Linked DNA regions of Homo sapiens. The protein of the gene in region 1 purifies or fractionates together with the protein of each later gene. This does not show direct contact. Each region holds a gene or a part of one and is shown on either strand. Other genes may lie near its edges.

Region 1 (3,500 bases):
CTGTTTTCACTGTTTCCTGAGCTATGGCTTGTTCATTCTTCTATATGAACTTGAATATCAACTTGTCTAGCTCCTTAAAAACAGTATTGATATTTTTACTGAGATTGTGACAATGTATAAATTAACTATATCTTTGTGTTGTTGTCTTATCCAAGAACAAGGGATGACTTCTTGTTCCAATGTACTTTTGGGTCTTGCAGGAGGGTTTTAAATTTTTCTTCATCTACATTTTGCATGTGACTTAAGTTTATTCCTAAGTGTTTGATCATCTTTGTCGCTATTGTAAATGGGGTTTTCCCTATCATTATATCCTTTTTTTCCCCCCAACTCTCAGGGTATTAATTATTCAGTGCTATTTATTTTTTATTTCAGTAGGTTTTTGGAGAACAGGTGGTGGTTGGATACGTGAATAAGTCCTTTAGTGGTGTCATTATATCGTTTCACTGCATATTGTCAGTGCATTTGAAGGCAGTGGATTTCTGCAAACTTTTGTTTTTTTTTTGATACGGGAGTTTCGCTCTTGTTGCTCAGGCTGGAGTGCAATGAAGCGATCTTGCCTCACCGCAACCTCTTCCTCCCAGGTTCAAGCAATTTTGCCTCAGCCTCCCAGGTAGCTGGGATTACAGGCGTGCACCACCATGCCCGGCTAATTTTTTGTATTTTCAGTAGAGATGGGGTTTCTCCATGTTGGTCAGGCTGGTCTAGAACTCGCAACCTCAGGTGATCCACCCATCTCAGCCTCCCAAAGTGCTGGGATTACAGGTGTGAGCCACTGCACTCAGCCCTGCAAACTAATTTTATATTCTGCTACCTTACAGAATTCTTACATTGTTCAGGTTAGTTTTGTTATTGATTCTTTAGGGCTTTACAGGTGTACTAACATATAATCTTTAAGTATCGATGGATACACTGCTTCCTGCTGATTCTCATGACTCTGACTTTGTTGAATTGCACCGTTCTTTTGTTTAGTTGCTAACACCTCTAGCTCATTGTTCAACATAGTGGAGATAGTGAGCCTCCTTACCTTGGTCCTGATCTTAGTGGAAATGCCACGTTACATGAGAGGCTGACTGTAAAAGGGAAGGCATATGTTATTTTAGCTTATTAACAAAGTATTCCTCAGTTCTTCTATTCCTGAGTGGTGTTTTACAGGAGTAACTATTGAATTGTGTTCCCATATCTTTGGAGACGATGGTGAATTTTCATATGGTAGATTGTCTTCATGAACCTCCTAATAATGAATCAACCTTACATTCTTGGCATAAATCCCACATGTTGTACTATTTTAATGTGTTTTTGAATTCTGTTTATTAATATTTAGTATTTTTCTATGGATATTCAGTCATAAGTGATACTGGTCTATAGTTTTCTTTCTTCTTTTTTTTTGTTTTTGAAATGGAGTCTTGCTCTGTTGCCCAGGCTGGACTGGAGTGGCGAGATCTCAGCTCACTGCAACCTCCGCAACCTCCGCCTCCTGAGTTCAAGCAATTCTTCTGCCTCAGCCTCCCGAGTAGCTGGGATCACAGGCGTGCACCACTACACCCAGCTAATTTTTGTATTTTTAGTAGAGACGGGGTTTCACCATGTTGGCCAGGCTGGTCTCGAACTCCTGATCTCCAGTGATCCGCCTGCCTCAGCCTCCCAAAGTGCTGGGATTACAGGCGTGAGCCACCGCTCCCGGCGTGGTCTATACTTTTCTATTTTTGTTCTGTCTATCAGGTATGGGTATCAGTGTTTACTTCATAAAAATAATTTGGAAGTTTTCCTTCCTTTTTTGTGTTCTAGGACAATACACGTAGCATTAGTGCTACCTGGTCTTAGAAGTTTTGATAGAATCCTCCCATGAAACCATCTGGTCTCTTTCTGTGAGGTGGTTCCTCGATAACAGTTTTTCTATTTCTTCTATAGAGATTGGCCTCCTCATACTTTCTTTTCTTATGGGGTCAGTTTTGGTAAATTATATTTTCCTGAGAGATCACTTCATCTAGGATTTCAGACTTATCTGCAGAGGTCTACAAGATAATATTTTCTCCCTTTTTTTTTTTTTTTTTTTGAGACAGAGTTTCACTCTTGTTCCCCAGGCTGGAGTGCAGTGGCTCGATCTTGACTCACCGCAACCTCTGCCTCCCGGGTTCAAGTGATTCTCCTGCCTCAGCGTCCCAAGTAGATGGGATTACAGGCATGCGCTACCATGCCTGGATAATTTTATGTTTTTAGTAGAGACAGGGTTTCTCCATGTTGGCCGGGCTGGTCTCAAACTCCCGACCTCAGGTGGTCTGCCCACCTGGGCCTCCCAAAGTACTGGGATTATAGGTGTGAGCCACCGCACCCGGCCAATTTTTTTCTCCTTTTAAAATATTCTGTTTCAGGGCCAGGCGCGGTGGCTTATGCCTATAATCTCAGCACTTTGGAAGGCCGAGTTGGGCGGATCACCTGAGGTCGGGAGTTCGAGACCAGCCTGATCAGTATGGAGAAACCCCATCTCTACTAAAAATATAAAATTAGCTGGGCGTAGTGGTGCATGCCTGTAATCCCAGCTACTCGGGAGGCTGAGGTGGGAGAATCCCTTGAACCCGGGAGGCAGAGGTTGAGGTGAGCCGAGATCGTGCCATTGCAGTCCAGCCTAGGCAACAAGAGCGAAACTCTGTCTCAAAAAAAAAAAAAAAAAAAAAATTCTGTTTCAGGCTGGGTGCAGTGGCTCATGCCTGTAATCTCAGCACTTTGGGAGGCTGAGGCGTGTGGATCACTTGAGGTCAGGAGTTCAAGACCAGCCTGGCCAACATGGTGAAACCCCGTCTCCACTAAAAATACAAAAATAAGCCAATGTGGTGGTGTGCGCCAGCTACTCTGGAGGCTGAGGCAGGAGAATCACTTGAACCCGGGAGGGGGAGATTGCAGTAAGCCAAAATCACGCCACTGCACTCCAGCTTGGCGACAGAGCGAGACTCCATCTCAAAGAAAAGTAAATAGATAAAATAAAACAAAATAAAATACTCTGTTTCAGTGGTTATTTTCTCCTGTTATTATCTTTTTTTGGCATGGAAAATATTGATTTATTTTTTGTGACAGGGTCTTGCTTTGTCACCCAGGCTGGAGTCCAGTGACCCAATCTCGACTCAATGCAACCTCCGCCTCCCAGGCTCAAAACGATCCTTCTACCTCAGCTCTACGAGTAGCTAGGACTGTAGGTGCACCCTACCACGCCCAGCTTACGTTTGTATTTTTTGTAGAGAGGTGGTTTTGCCATGTTGACCAGGCTGGTCTCAAGAGTCCTGAGCTCAAGCAATCCACCCGCCTCAGCCTCCCAAAGTGCTGGGACTACAGGCATGAGCTACTGCACCTGACCTGGAAAATATTTATCTCATTTTTAATTGACACAAAATAACTACATATTTATGGGGTACAGTGTGTGATGTTTTGATACATGTATACACTGTGTAATGATCAAATTAAGGTGATTAGCTTATCCATCACCTCAAACATTTATCATTTCGAGGTGA
Region 2 (3,500 bases), on another chromosome or scaffold:
GGCCTGGAGTTCGTGACCAGCCTGGACAACATAGCAAGACCCTGTCTGTCTCTACAAAACATTTTTAAAAATTAGCCAGGTATGGTGGCACATGCCTGTAGTGCCACTAATTCAGGAAGCCAAGGTGAGAGGATCCTTGAGCCCAGGAGGTGGAGGCTGTAGTGAGCTGGGATGATACCACTGCATGCCAGCCTGGGTGACGGAGCAAGACTCTGACTCAAAAAACAGAAAGGAAAAAAAAAAACTTTATATAATGTAGCTAAACTTAATATCTATAAGGGCAGTTTATGCTTTAAAATCTATCTTCAGAAAAGAACCAATGAATGATACACATGTCTGAATGTCTAATGCTTTAACTCTCTGCTTTGGATTCTCATCATTTCATTTTAGGAGCTGCTTCCTTTGGTGCTGATGTTTGAGCTACCAATTGCTGGAATTCTTCAACCGGTTCCTGATCCTAATTCCCCCTCTATTCAGCATATATCACAAACGTACAATATTTCAGTATCATTTAAACAGCGTTCCCGAATGTATGGTGCTACTGTCATAGTACGAGGGTCTCAGAATAACACTAGTGCTGTGAAGGTAAATTATTCAGATAATTCTGCACATCCTATATGTACAAGTTACATGAGTTTCATTTTTAAAGAATATTAGACTAATTTGATTTCCAGAATTTTCCTTCGTTCTACATTTTGGTTTGCAGAATATGCTGTATTTTTCCATAGCTGTTAGAAATGCAATAGAATCTTTCCCCGTATATGAACAGTTAATGTATAGGATTATTTCTTTCCCACCCTTTTCTCTTAGGAAGGAACTGCCATGCTGTTAGAACATCTTGCTGGGAGCTTAGCATCAGCTATTCCTGTGAGCACACAACTAGATATTGCAGCTCAACATCATCTCTTTATGATGGGTCGAAATGGGAGCAACATCAAACATATCATGCAGAGAACAGGTGCTCAGATCCACTTTCCTGATCCCAGTAATCCACAAAAGAAATCTACCGTCTACCTCCAGGGCACCATTGAGTCTGTCTGTCTTGCAAGGCAATATCTCATGGTAAGGTTACTGAAATAAGTGTTACAATTTTTTTAAACCTCTTTGGATTCAGTGCATGTTTTTCCATCCACTGTACTAATGTGATATTTAGGAAAGCACTTCGGAAGCCTCGTCAAATAAGGAAGTTTCTTGCTAAAAGGAAATAAACTGGAAGAGTAATAAGGTTCATAGTGCCTCAACAGGTTTAATTTCATTGCATATGTAATTTTATTTCAGTGTTTTCTTTTTAACTTAGACTAAACACAGAAGAGAATTATAGTGAAATAATTGACTGCATTTTGTGGCAAGGATGGAAGGTGACTGTTTTCATCTGACCTGTAATATTAGTGTGCAGTTTGTATTTGGCAAAAAAAAAAAAAGTCCTCTGTTTAAACAGAAAAGTAAAAATACTATTTAAATTTCACCATCAAAGACAAATTTTGTCAGCCCAAAACATTTGTACATTTCATAAATCTTTGATCCAATTAAAAAATACTATTTAAGTCACAAATTCGAGCGTCACTTATTGAAGGAAGAAAAGCAAAGTTATATATTATAATTCAATACTACTTTACTACTTCTAATTTATAATTGCAATATTTCTATCCTTCCCATATTTGTTTAAAACCCCTCGGCCAGGTGCGGTACCTCATGCCTGTAATCCCAGCACTTTGGGAGGCCAAGGTGGGCAGATCACTTGAGGTCAAAATCAAGACCAGCCTGGCCAACATAGTGAAACCCCATTTCTACTAAAAATATAAAAATTAGCCAATGCGGTGGCAGGTGCCTGTAATCCCAGTTACTCAGGAGGCTGAGGGAGGAGAATTGCTTGAACCCAGAAAGCAGAGGTTGCAGTAAGCCCAGATGGCACCACTGCACTGCATTTCAAAAATGAAATAAATGAAATGGAATGAAATAAACTATCCCAGTGTATGGGTTGATAATGTAGTAACAAAATGGATGGACATGATGCTGGGCTTACAAATATTTGTATTAAAAACACCATTGTATTCTCTCATTCAGTGCTTGACCTTTAGTGGCATTTGAATCAGTAAGCCTCAGGTGTGACATTTACTATTATTAACTTGCAGAGTTTATTTTTGAGAAACTTTCAGAAAATCTAAGTTTTTATTGTTGATTCCATTCCTCTGACAGACAAGAACTTGTTGGAATCAGTAAGATTGTAATCCACGATTTTAAGAAATTTGTCATGATTTTTTTTAGCCGAGCTTATTTTATCAGGTTATTTTTAATATACTGTACTACAAGTCAGATTTATATTTATATCCAAGAATTGTTGTAATCTTCATTTTTTTTCTGCTTTACAAGTTCTTTAGATGTTATTTTTTAGTTTAGTGAAATTTTTCAAATATTCTCTACAGTTATTAATGCACATTTATACTTTGACCATACCTGCCAAAAATAATGACTCATATTATTGCACAACATTGAAATAACTGAAGGAGAAATTAAAAGGCTTTAACCCGTATTTTAAATACCATCACCATTTTGTATAGCACTATTCTTATAAAAATCACTTCCTGGCTGGGCGCGGTGGCTTACACCTGTAATCCCAACACTTTGGGAGGCCGAGGCAGGCGTATCACAAGGTCAGGAGTTCAAGACCAGCCTGGCCAATATGGTGAAACCCCATCTCTACTAAAAATACACAGAAAAGTTAGCCGGGCATAGTGGTGAAGGTCTGTAATCCCAGCTACTCAAGAGGCTGAGACAGGAGAATTGCTCAAACCGCGGAGGTGGAGGTTGCGGTGAGCCGAGATCGCGCCACTGCACTCCAGCCTGGGTGACAGAGCAAGACTCCGTTTAAAAAAAAAAATCAATTTCTTCCACAGGAGAAATGGAGCATAGTATTTTATTTCTTTTTCTTTTTTTAGTTTAGGTGAGGTCTTACTCTGTTGCTCAGGCTGGAGTGTAGTAGTGTGTTCTCAGCTCACTGCAATCTCTGCCTCCTGGGTTGAAGTGATTCTCATGCCTCAGCCTCCCGAGTAGCTGAGATTACAGTCATATGCCACCATGCCTGGCTAATTTTTTTAGTTTTAGTAGAGATGGGGTTTCACTATGTTGGCCAGGCTGATCTTGCACTCTTGGCCTCAAGTGATCCACCCACCTAAGCCTCCCAAAGTGCTGGGATTACAGGCATGAGCCATGGTTCCCGGCTTAGTAATTCATTTTAATCCTAGTGTGCTTAATGGTAACCTCTCCTGATATCCATTTACAAATTCCAGCACCCAGTGGGCTAACACTGGAAATTCTGTGCATCAGAGAAAGTATATTACATTGTTCCTAGACTCAGTAGATCAGAGGCTGTGAGTAGAGCATTAGAGAAAAAAAAAAAATCTAAAAAATGAGGTAGTTAAAAGAAGGGACAGTAGTAACAATTTACTCCAGGAAGGAGGAAAGGTTTAAACTGCATTAGGTTAAGTAGGATTTATATTGGT
Region 3 (4,179 bases), on another chromosome or scaffold:
CGCCACCCGGTCTAGGAAGTGAGGAGCGTCTCTTCCCGGCCGCCCATCGTCTGGGATGTGGGGAGCGCCTCTGCCCCGCCGCGACCCCGTCTGGGAACTGAGGAGTGTCTCTGCCCCGCCGCCACCCTGTCTGGGAGGTGAGGATCGTCTCTGACTGGCCGCCCCGTCTGAGAAGTGAGGAGCCACTCTGCCCGGCAGCCGCCCCGTCCGGGAGATGAGGAGCGTCTCCTCCCGGCAGCCGCCCCGTCCAGGAGGTGGGGGGAAAGCCCCCGACCGGCCAGCCGCCCCGTCTGGGAGGTGGGGGGCAGCCCCCTCCCAGCCGCCGCCCTGTCTGGGAGGTGGGGGGGGGGGGCGCCTCTGCCCGGCTGCCCCATTTGGGAAGTGAGGAGCCCCTCTGCCCCGCCGCCACCCCATCTGGGAGGTGTACCCAATAGCTCATTGAGAACGGGCCATGATGACGATGGCGGTTTTGTCGAATAGAAAAGGGGGAAATGTGGGGAAAAGAAAGAGAGATCAGATTGTTACTGTGTCTGTGTAGAAAGAAGTAGACATAGGAGACTCCATTTTGTTCTGTACTAAGAAAAATTCTTTTGCCTTGGGATGCTGTTAATCTATAACCTTACCCCCAACCCCGTGCTCTCTGAAACATGTGCTGTGTCCACTAAGGGTTAAATGGAAAAAAAAAAAAAGGAGGACAGGAACTATGTGTCTAGTTCATTATCTCCATTTCCTGGTACCATGCCTAGCAGGTGGTAGACTTCACTCAATAAATATCTGGTGAATCAGTGTCTTTCTGGAAATTTATACATAACTCCTTGAATGAGGCAACATGCTTCTGCACTATTTAATAAGAAAAACTAAGTCAAGTTTCTAATCTGTGGTTTTGTTTTGCTTTGAGAACAGGGTCTTGGCTATGTTGCCCTGTCTGGTCTCGAACTTCTGATCTCGAGCGATCACTCCCACCTCTCCCTTCCTAAGTGTTGGGATTAACAGGAGTGAGCCACCGCGCCCGGCCAAGTCTCCAACTTGCTCGAGGTCACTGAACTTGCAATTGAAGAAGCTACGATTCGAACCCATGTCTGTAGGATCCCAGAGCCCTCATTGTCAAATACATACTGAAGTTTCCCAGTTTTCGGGAACCCCGCAGTACAAGGTGACCGAGGACAATACCAGAAATGGGAGCCCCAGACCCCACGTAGCGGCGAAGTTCCCAGAAGGCACAGCGCTCGGGGGTGTGGCCAGACGCATGGGCGGTGCCAAGCGTAGGAAGATGGTTGGGAACTGCGTCTCCCCCAAGGCTCCGCAGGGCGCCGCTGACTGGCGGAAGCGAGGGCGGGGACAGCGGAATGACGTTTTAAGGACGCTTGCGCGCGGGATTTAAACTGCGGCGGTTTACGCGGCGTTAAGACTTCGTAGGGTTAGCGAAATTGAGGTTTCTTGGTATTGCGCGTTTCTCTTCCTTGCTGACTCTCCGAATGGCCATGGACTCGTCGCTTCAGGCCCGCCTGTTTCCCGGTCTCGCTATCAAGATCCAACGCAGTAATGGTGAGGAGCGGGGTCCCTAGGTCAAGGGGACTCGTGAGCGGTGAGACGACTGAAATTACTGCCCGTCCCCGGACACACAGATGGGCTTTCACTCTCTTTCTCTCCCTCCCTCCTTTTCACACGCACTCACTCCGGGTCTCTGCACTGGCAGTCATTCTTGCCTACACAGGGGTGAGAGTCCCTGCGCTGTACGTGGTCCCTTTCGCAGTCCTCTGGGAGTGGGCGGACCTTCTCCAAGGCTGGTAGACCTCCCAGGGAAGTTGGGACTTCTAAATTCACTTCCCTTCCAAAATTCTCCCCTGAAAATGCCCTGCTCTTATGGGGACCTCGGTCTCCTGGCCCCTTTACTCTCGAATAAATATTGCGCAGTTGCGGTATGTCAGGTAAACGGGACAGACAAGAACCCTGCGCTTGAGGAGCTTGTAGTCGTTCTCTCTTTTGCTTAAGCAGGTACCGCAGTTCTGGCAGGTCTGATACCCGTGTCATTAGGGAAATGGACAGATATGACCGCCAGAAATGAGTTAGGAAAACCCCAAAAGGGCCAGATCCTCAATGCTATGTTGAGGAAAAGTTCATCTAAGGGTTGTGGGGAATCCTGTGCTCAAACATACCTTTTGTATGTTCTCTTTTGTAGGCTCTATCTCTCTTTTTTTGTAGGCTCTCTTGAGTAGGGGTGAATCCTTATCCCATGCAGCTCAGTTTAAAAACCTGTCCCCAGCCCACCTCACTGTGGATATTCTAAAGGTGAAGCCCAGGAGATTTATTTGTTTCTCTTAGTTTTTTTTTTTTTTTTTTTTAAGGTAGCTGCCTGTTCCTTCAGGTTAACTCCACTTTGGGAATCTCTGTGGAATCCTAAAAGTGAAGCTCTCAGGAAAGAGATGGGTAACTCTGGTTTTTTCATACTTTATAGGTTTAATTCACAGTGCCAATGTAAGGACTGTGAACTTGGAGAAATCCTGTGTTTCAGTGGAATGGGCAGAAGGAGGTGCCACAAAGGGCAAAGAGGTAGGTTCTATGAGAATTCCTCTACCACATTTAATGTCTTCCTACATAAAGGATCTGTGCAGAAGTGGAATCTGTGAGAGCCTAGTTTCTGATGCTGTGCTCTTCTCACTCACGCCTGTAATCCCAGAACTTTGGGAGGCTGAGACGGGCAGATCACCTGATGTCAGGAGTTCGAGACCATCCTGGCCAACATGGCGAAACCTGTCTCTACTGAAAATACAAAAATTAGCCAGTCGTGGTAGTGCATGCCTGTAATCCCAACTACTTGGGAGCCTGAGGCAGGAGAACTGCTTGAACCTGGGAGGCGGAGGTTGCAGTGAGCCGAAACTGTGCCGCTGCACTCCAGCCTGGGTGACAGTGAGAATCTGTCTCAAAAAAAAAAAAAAAAAAAAATTGGCTGGGTGCGGTGGCTCTTGCCTCTAATCCCGACACTTTGAGAGGCCTGGTCTGGAGGATTGCTTGAGCTCAGGAGTTCGAGACCAGCCTGGGAAAAATGTTGAGACCTTGTCTCTACAAAAAAATTAAAAATTATCAGGGTGTGGTGGCTCACGCCTGTGGTTCCAGCTACTCGGGAAGCTGAGGTGGGAGGATTGATTTAGCCTGGGAGGTTGAGGCTGCACTGAACCATGATCGAGCCACTGCACTCTGGCCTGGGCGACAGAGTGAGACCTTTCCTCAAAAAATAAAAATGGTCTTCTTGGCTGGGCACAGTGGCTCACATGTATAATCCCAGCACTTTGGGAGGCCGAGGTGGGCAGATCGCTTTGAGCTCAGCAGTTCAAGACCAGGCTGGGCAACATGACAAAACCTCATTTCTACAAAAAATACAAAAAACATTAGCCGGGCATGGTGGTGCATGCCTGTGGTCCCAGCTGCTCTGGAGGCTGAGGCTGGAGAATTGCTGGAGTCTGGGAAAGCACAGGTTTCAGTGAGCTGAAATTGCACCACTGCTCTCCAGCCTCCTGGGCAACAGAATGAGGACTTGTCTCAAAAAAAAAAAAAAAAAAAAAAAGAATGGTCCCCTTCCAGATGCATTGGGATTTTATTTAGTCAGGTCCATTCTAAATTGAAGCAATCAATAATTTTCTGGGTTTTTTTTGTTTGTTTGTTTGTTTGTTTTGAGACAGAGTCTCACTCTGTCACCCAGGCTGGAGTGCAGTGGCGAGATCTCAGCTCACTGCAAGCTCCGCCTCCCGGGTTCACGTCATTCTCCTGCCTCAGCCTCCCGAGTAACTGGTACTACAGGTGCCCGCCACTACGCCCGGCTAATTTTTTGTATTTTTAGTAGAGATGGGGTTTCACTGTGTTAGCCGGGATGGTCTCGATCTCCTGACCTCGTGATCCGCCTGCCTCTGCCTCCCAAAGTGCTGGGATTACAGGCGTGAGCCACCATGCCCGGCTCTGGTATGTTTGTAGAAAGCAAACTGCAGCCAGGCGCAGTGGCTCATGCCTGTAATCCCAGCACTTTGGGAGGCCGAGGTGGGCGGATCACTTGAGATCAGGAGTTTGAGACCAGCCTGGCCAACATAGCGAAACCCCCATCTCTACTAAAAATACAAAAATTAGCTGGGTGTGGTGGCACGGGCCTGTAATCCCAGCTACTTGGGAAGCTGGGGCAGGAGGATCACA
Region 4 (4,118 bases), on another chromosome or scaffold:
AAATACCAACCTTGCCTTTGGTCCCGTGCTGGGTGCTACAAGTTAGGTGGTAGGAAGAAAGGGAGGAGAGAAAACTCTATATGAGATCAAGTAGGTTCTGCCCTCAAGGGGTTAATAGTCTCCAAGAGGAAGATGTAAATAAATAACCGTAATTGAAAGTAAGAATCATTCAGTGCCAAAAAGAGTGGGAGGAAGAGGTTGCTGGGCGGGGCGGGGCGGGGGTGGGGGGTTGGGGGGGGTGTTGGGGGGTGAGGGGAGGGGTGGTGGCGAGGGTGGCAGGGGTTGGGGGGGCGGTTAGGATGCAGGGAGAACTTGAAGGAGAGGCAGGCATTCAAATTAGATTTTCCCCCAGTTTAGCATTAACTCTGGCCCCAGTTGCAGTCCATGAATGTGGAAGGGCCCTCCCCTGCCAGGCGCTGAAATTGTGCACGAGCTATTTTTTTTTTCTTGGCTAACAGCTTTCCTCTCACGGTTAATGACTAATCCCAAGGAGCATTAGCTCACTCTGTAAATATGAAATTATAATATAGCAAAATATAACGCTAAAAGCCATCAATCTAATTTTAGTCGCAAAGTTGAAATTTCATAGCAATAGCATTAAAAGAGTTACATTGTTACGATTTCAGTCAACATATAAATGAAATAAAATTGTTCTGGCCTGGCGCGGTGGCTCAGGCCTGTAATCCTAGCACTTCGGGAGGCCGAGGCTGGCGGATCACCTGAGTTCAGGATTTCGAGACCAGTCTGGCCAACATGGTGAAACCCTGTCTCTACTAAAAATACAAAAATTAGCCGGGCGTAGTGGCAGACGCCTGTAATCCCAGCTACTCCGGAGGCTGAGGCGGGAGAATCGCTGGAACCTGGGAGGCAGAGGCTGCAGTGAGCTGAGATCGCGCCACTGCACTCCAGCCTGGGCGACAGAGCGAGGCTCCATCTAAAAAAAAAAATTGTTCTACTTTAAGAAACCTAAAATGACGGCTTAATGGCAGAGTAGTATTACGATATAAAGCATTTAAAATGAACAGAACATGCAGATCTTACTTTTTTTTTTCTTTTCTTTTTTTTTTAGTGTATTGTTGCTCACAGCGAGACAGAGTGTTCTGCTACCCACAGGGCCAGGGCCTCACACAAACCAGCGGGCTCTCCAGGGTGCGCGCGCGATCTACAACCCGCCCCTTGAAAAGGAAAGCGGGGCCCGGGACGCTGCGGGTGTGAGCCGGACCGGCTTAGAGAGGGAAAGTAACCCGAGTCCGCCGCTTCGGGCGGACCCGCCCCCTCCCACGAGTTTCCCTAGACCCTCGGCCCCGCCCTCTCTTTTATTCGGTTTGCAGCAACCGGAGCTGAAACTTTGCAACCCGAGCGCGCACGCTCTGCGCTCGGCCCTGCCAGGGCGGCACGGGAGGGCGGCGCAGGAGGTGGGACCTGCGCCGGGAAGGCTCCGGGACGCCAGCGCACGCGGAGCGGGGACCCCGGAGAGCCAGCAGGCGAGAAGACCGGCCGAGGGAGAGCCGATCGCGCCTCGAGAGATCCGAGGAAGTGGTCGCGGGCCGGGAGGCTCCCGTGCCGAGCCGAGGCCAGGGGTCTGGGGTCGCAGCCCGGCGTGCCTGCAGCTGCCGTCGCTCGGGAGCAGCAGCTGTGCCCGGGATCCCGGCGGCGGCGGGGGAAGGAGGAGCTGCAGCTGGACTGTGGCAGCTGGAGGGAGAGGGCCGGGCTCCCCTGGCGGAGCCGCGCTGGGACGACTGGCTGACCGCGGCCATGCAGTCTTGACGGAGTCGCTCGGGCGCAGGGGAGCAGCCGCGGGCGCGCCCTCCCGGGAAGGGGCACCGGAGCGCAGGCAGCAGCACTTTATCTGCGACTCTCCAGCCCAGCGAGAGGCGAAGCGGTTTACCATGGAACCCGTGACCAAGTGGAGCCCCAAACAAGTGGTGGACTGGACTAGAGGTGCGCGGGCCTTGGGGGGGTCCGGAGTCCTCCAGCCTCGGGGATGGGGCGGACGAGGAGCTGGGGAAGAGGGTACTTGGCCCTTCCTCCCGGCGAGAAGCGGTGAGGGCACAGCCCGGTGACAATGCAAACTTCTGCCGAGTGGCCTGTGCGCTCCTATCTCTCGTACCTGCTCCGAGCTCTTCCTTTCCAGGGTGCGGATTGTGGCAAGCCGAGGGGAGCCCTATCTTTAAACCAGGGAGTAGGGGTGGCCTTTCTGTGGCGGTTGAGGGCTGGGGATGCCGATCTCGGGACTCGGCACTCGGGCCGGGGGGCGCTCTCCCTGCCTGGCCCCGGTGCGGTGCCCGGCGACCCGGGGGCCCGAGTGCAGAGGCACAAGGTGCCTTTGTGTGGGTGACTCCCGCGGGACCTCGTCCATGCCGCCTGCCCAGAGCCGTCCGCAGGCGTGACAGGGCTGTCGGACAGGTAGAGGGAGACTCCGGCGGGTCCGCCGAGCCTGTCTGTTTTTGTTGGAGAAGGCGAGAGGGCCGCGCAAAAGCCAACACCATAGCATTTGCGCCAGGGAGAAACCTCGAGCCAGGACTCCCCGGGAGGCAGTGACTTTTGCTCCGGGAGGCGCCAGTATCCCCGGTGGCGCTGCATTTTCAGGCCACATGTAAGCACTGGGAAGGAGAAATATAATTGTTTGGAACCACTGTCTTGATTCATACAATATTTGGGATGAGGAAGGCAGTGGGGCTGGGGCGGTGGGGGGGTGGTGGGGGGAATGAGCAGAGGTAGAAGCTTGTCCTCCTAGCTGGCTCGCTTACTTTTCAATGTCTCCTACGATTTCGAGGGAAAGGTACTAGAGTTTACTCAACCCTTTTCTGTACTTTCAAGAGAACAAAGTCCACCAAGAACAATCTGTATTTTCATGGTTTCCCCCCACCCCCAACGACATCTCTGTTTCAAGTTACTATTTGTTTTTCTATCTGCTCTTCCAGGTGAGGAATGGTGTTCTTTCTCAGTAATAACTAGAATTGTGTAGCGCTTTACAGTTTGCTAAGAGCTCTCTCTGTTATTGTCCTTGGTCATCACAGTAAGCCTGTGAGGTAGGTAATACTGGTAAGACCAGGTCGTCTTTCAAACCGTCCCACCCATGGCTGCAGCATAATGAAAACTGATCACCGCTACATCTCATTTCTCACGCCTGTGACTTACACATAGACCACGTGGAATAGGATGTCCGAGGTGTGTGGGGTGTGTCAGTGGGTATGTCTGACCATTTCCTGCTCCTCTGGGAGAACTCCTTGAGAACGGGTTTGTCAAGTGAGCAGAATTTCCTGGACTCCTATATAAAATGAAGCTAAAAACAACACATGTTTCTGCCTTGGTGACTAGGTTTCCCTTGGTAAAGAGTAAGTGGCATTGCCAGTACTTGGTAGGAAGCATGAGCTTAAAAGCCATCCATGCCCACGCTAGCTTGAAATGAGGTGTGTTCCTCCATTCAAGATGCTGCCAAATTCCCTAGGCTGGCAGCTTCCTGAAACTGAGTTGATATGTATTTTATCTGTATGTCCCTCATAGAGCCAACTTGAGACACTGCAAATTTCAGCTACTGTTGACTTCTAGAGCCGCTCTGTCCAACTTAGTAACCAGTACCACTTGTGGCTCTGCAGCCCTTGAAATGTGGCTGGTTAGAATTGCAATGTGCTGTAAGTCTAAAATACACATGGCATTTGAAGACTTGGTATGAAAAAAAAGAACATGAAATATCTTAATACTTTTTATTACATGTGGAAATGATAGTATTTTGATACGTTAGGTTAAATAAAATATATTACTAAAATAAGCTTCACCTGTTTATTTTTACCTTCTTACATATGTCTCCTAGAAAATCTAAAATAACACAGGGCTCACATTTGTGGCTTCCATTATATTTCTATTGGACAGTTCTGCTGTAGCAGAAAGAAAGGGTTACATCTTATCACCCTGGCTTTTCTGAGCCTCTGCCAGCTTAGTTGATAATGTACAATCAGAAAAATGGTAACAGGCGCACAGGAAGATTATGGAGTGAGATCTTCACACCCTCAAGATTTGTGTCTGGTTTTGTTGTTGTTGTTGTTGTTGTTTTTGTCCCTCTTGGGATTGGAAAAGGAGAAGCGTAAAATCACATCCTGTTATGTTTGTTGAGTATT

What was found.
Region 2: the proteins of ANKS3 (region 1) and BICC1 purify together in Homo sapiens (affinity purification with mass spectrometry; one large-scale study listed by BioGRID and IntAct). This does not show direct contact.
Region 3: the proteins of ANKS3 (region 1) and KIF2C purify together in Homo sapiens (affinity purification with mass spectrometry; one large-scale study listed by BioGRID and IntAct). This does not show direct contact.
Region 4: the proteins of ANKS3 (region 1) and CNKSR3 purify together in Homo sapiens (affinity purification with mass spectrometry; one large-scale study listed by BioGRID and IntAct). This does not show direct contact.

Annotation. Positions count from the first base shown.
Region 1 is NC_000016.10:4,710,272-4,713,771, reverse strand, and holds part of ANKS3 (ankyrin repeat and SAM domain-containing protein 3), read left to right. Parts: intron 1-3,500. UniProt on the Homo sapiens protein: May be involved in vasopressin signaling in the kidney.
Region 2 is NC_000010.11:58,788,872-58,792,371, forward strand, and holds part of BICC1 (protein bicaudal C homolog 1), read left to right. Parts: intron 1-390; coding exon 391-585; intron 586-810; coding exon 811-1,062; intron 1,063-3,500. UniProt on the Homo sapiens protein: Putative RNA-binding protein. Acts as a negative regulator of Wnt signaling. May be involved in regulating gene expression during embryonic development.
Region 3 is NC_000001.11:44,738,458-44,742,636, forward strand, and holds the start of KIF2C (kinesin-like protein KIF2C), read left to right. Parts: upstream 1-1,379; 5' UTR 1,380-1,475; coding exon 1,476-1,545; coding exon of another isoform or gene 1,546-1,585; intron 1,586-2,455; coding exon 2,456-2,550; intron 2,551-4,179. UniProt on the Homo sapiens protein: In complex with KIF18B, constitutes the major microtubule plus-end depolymerizing activity in mitotic cells. Regulates the turnover of microtubules at the kinetochore and functions in chromosome segregation during mitosis.
Region 4 is NC_000006.12:154,507,886-154,512,003, reverse strand, and holds the start of CNKSR3 (connector enhancer of kinase suppressor of ras 3), read left to right. Parts: upstream 1-1,318; 5' UTR 1,319-1,889; coding exon 1,890-1,941; exon of another isoform or gene 1,942-2,065; coding exon of another isoform or gene 2,066-2,135; intron 2,136-4,118. UniProt on the Homo sapiens protein: Involved in transepithelial sodium transport. Regulates aldosterone-induced and epithelial sodium channel (ENaC)-mediated sodium transport through regulation of ENaC cell surface expression.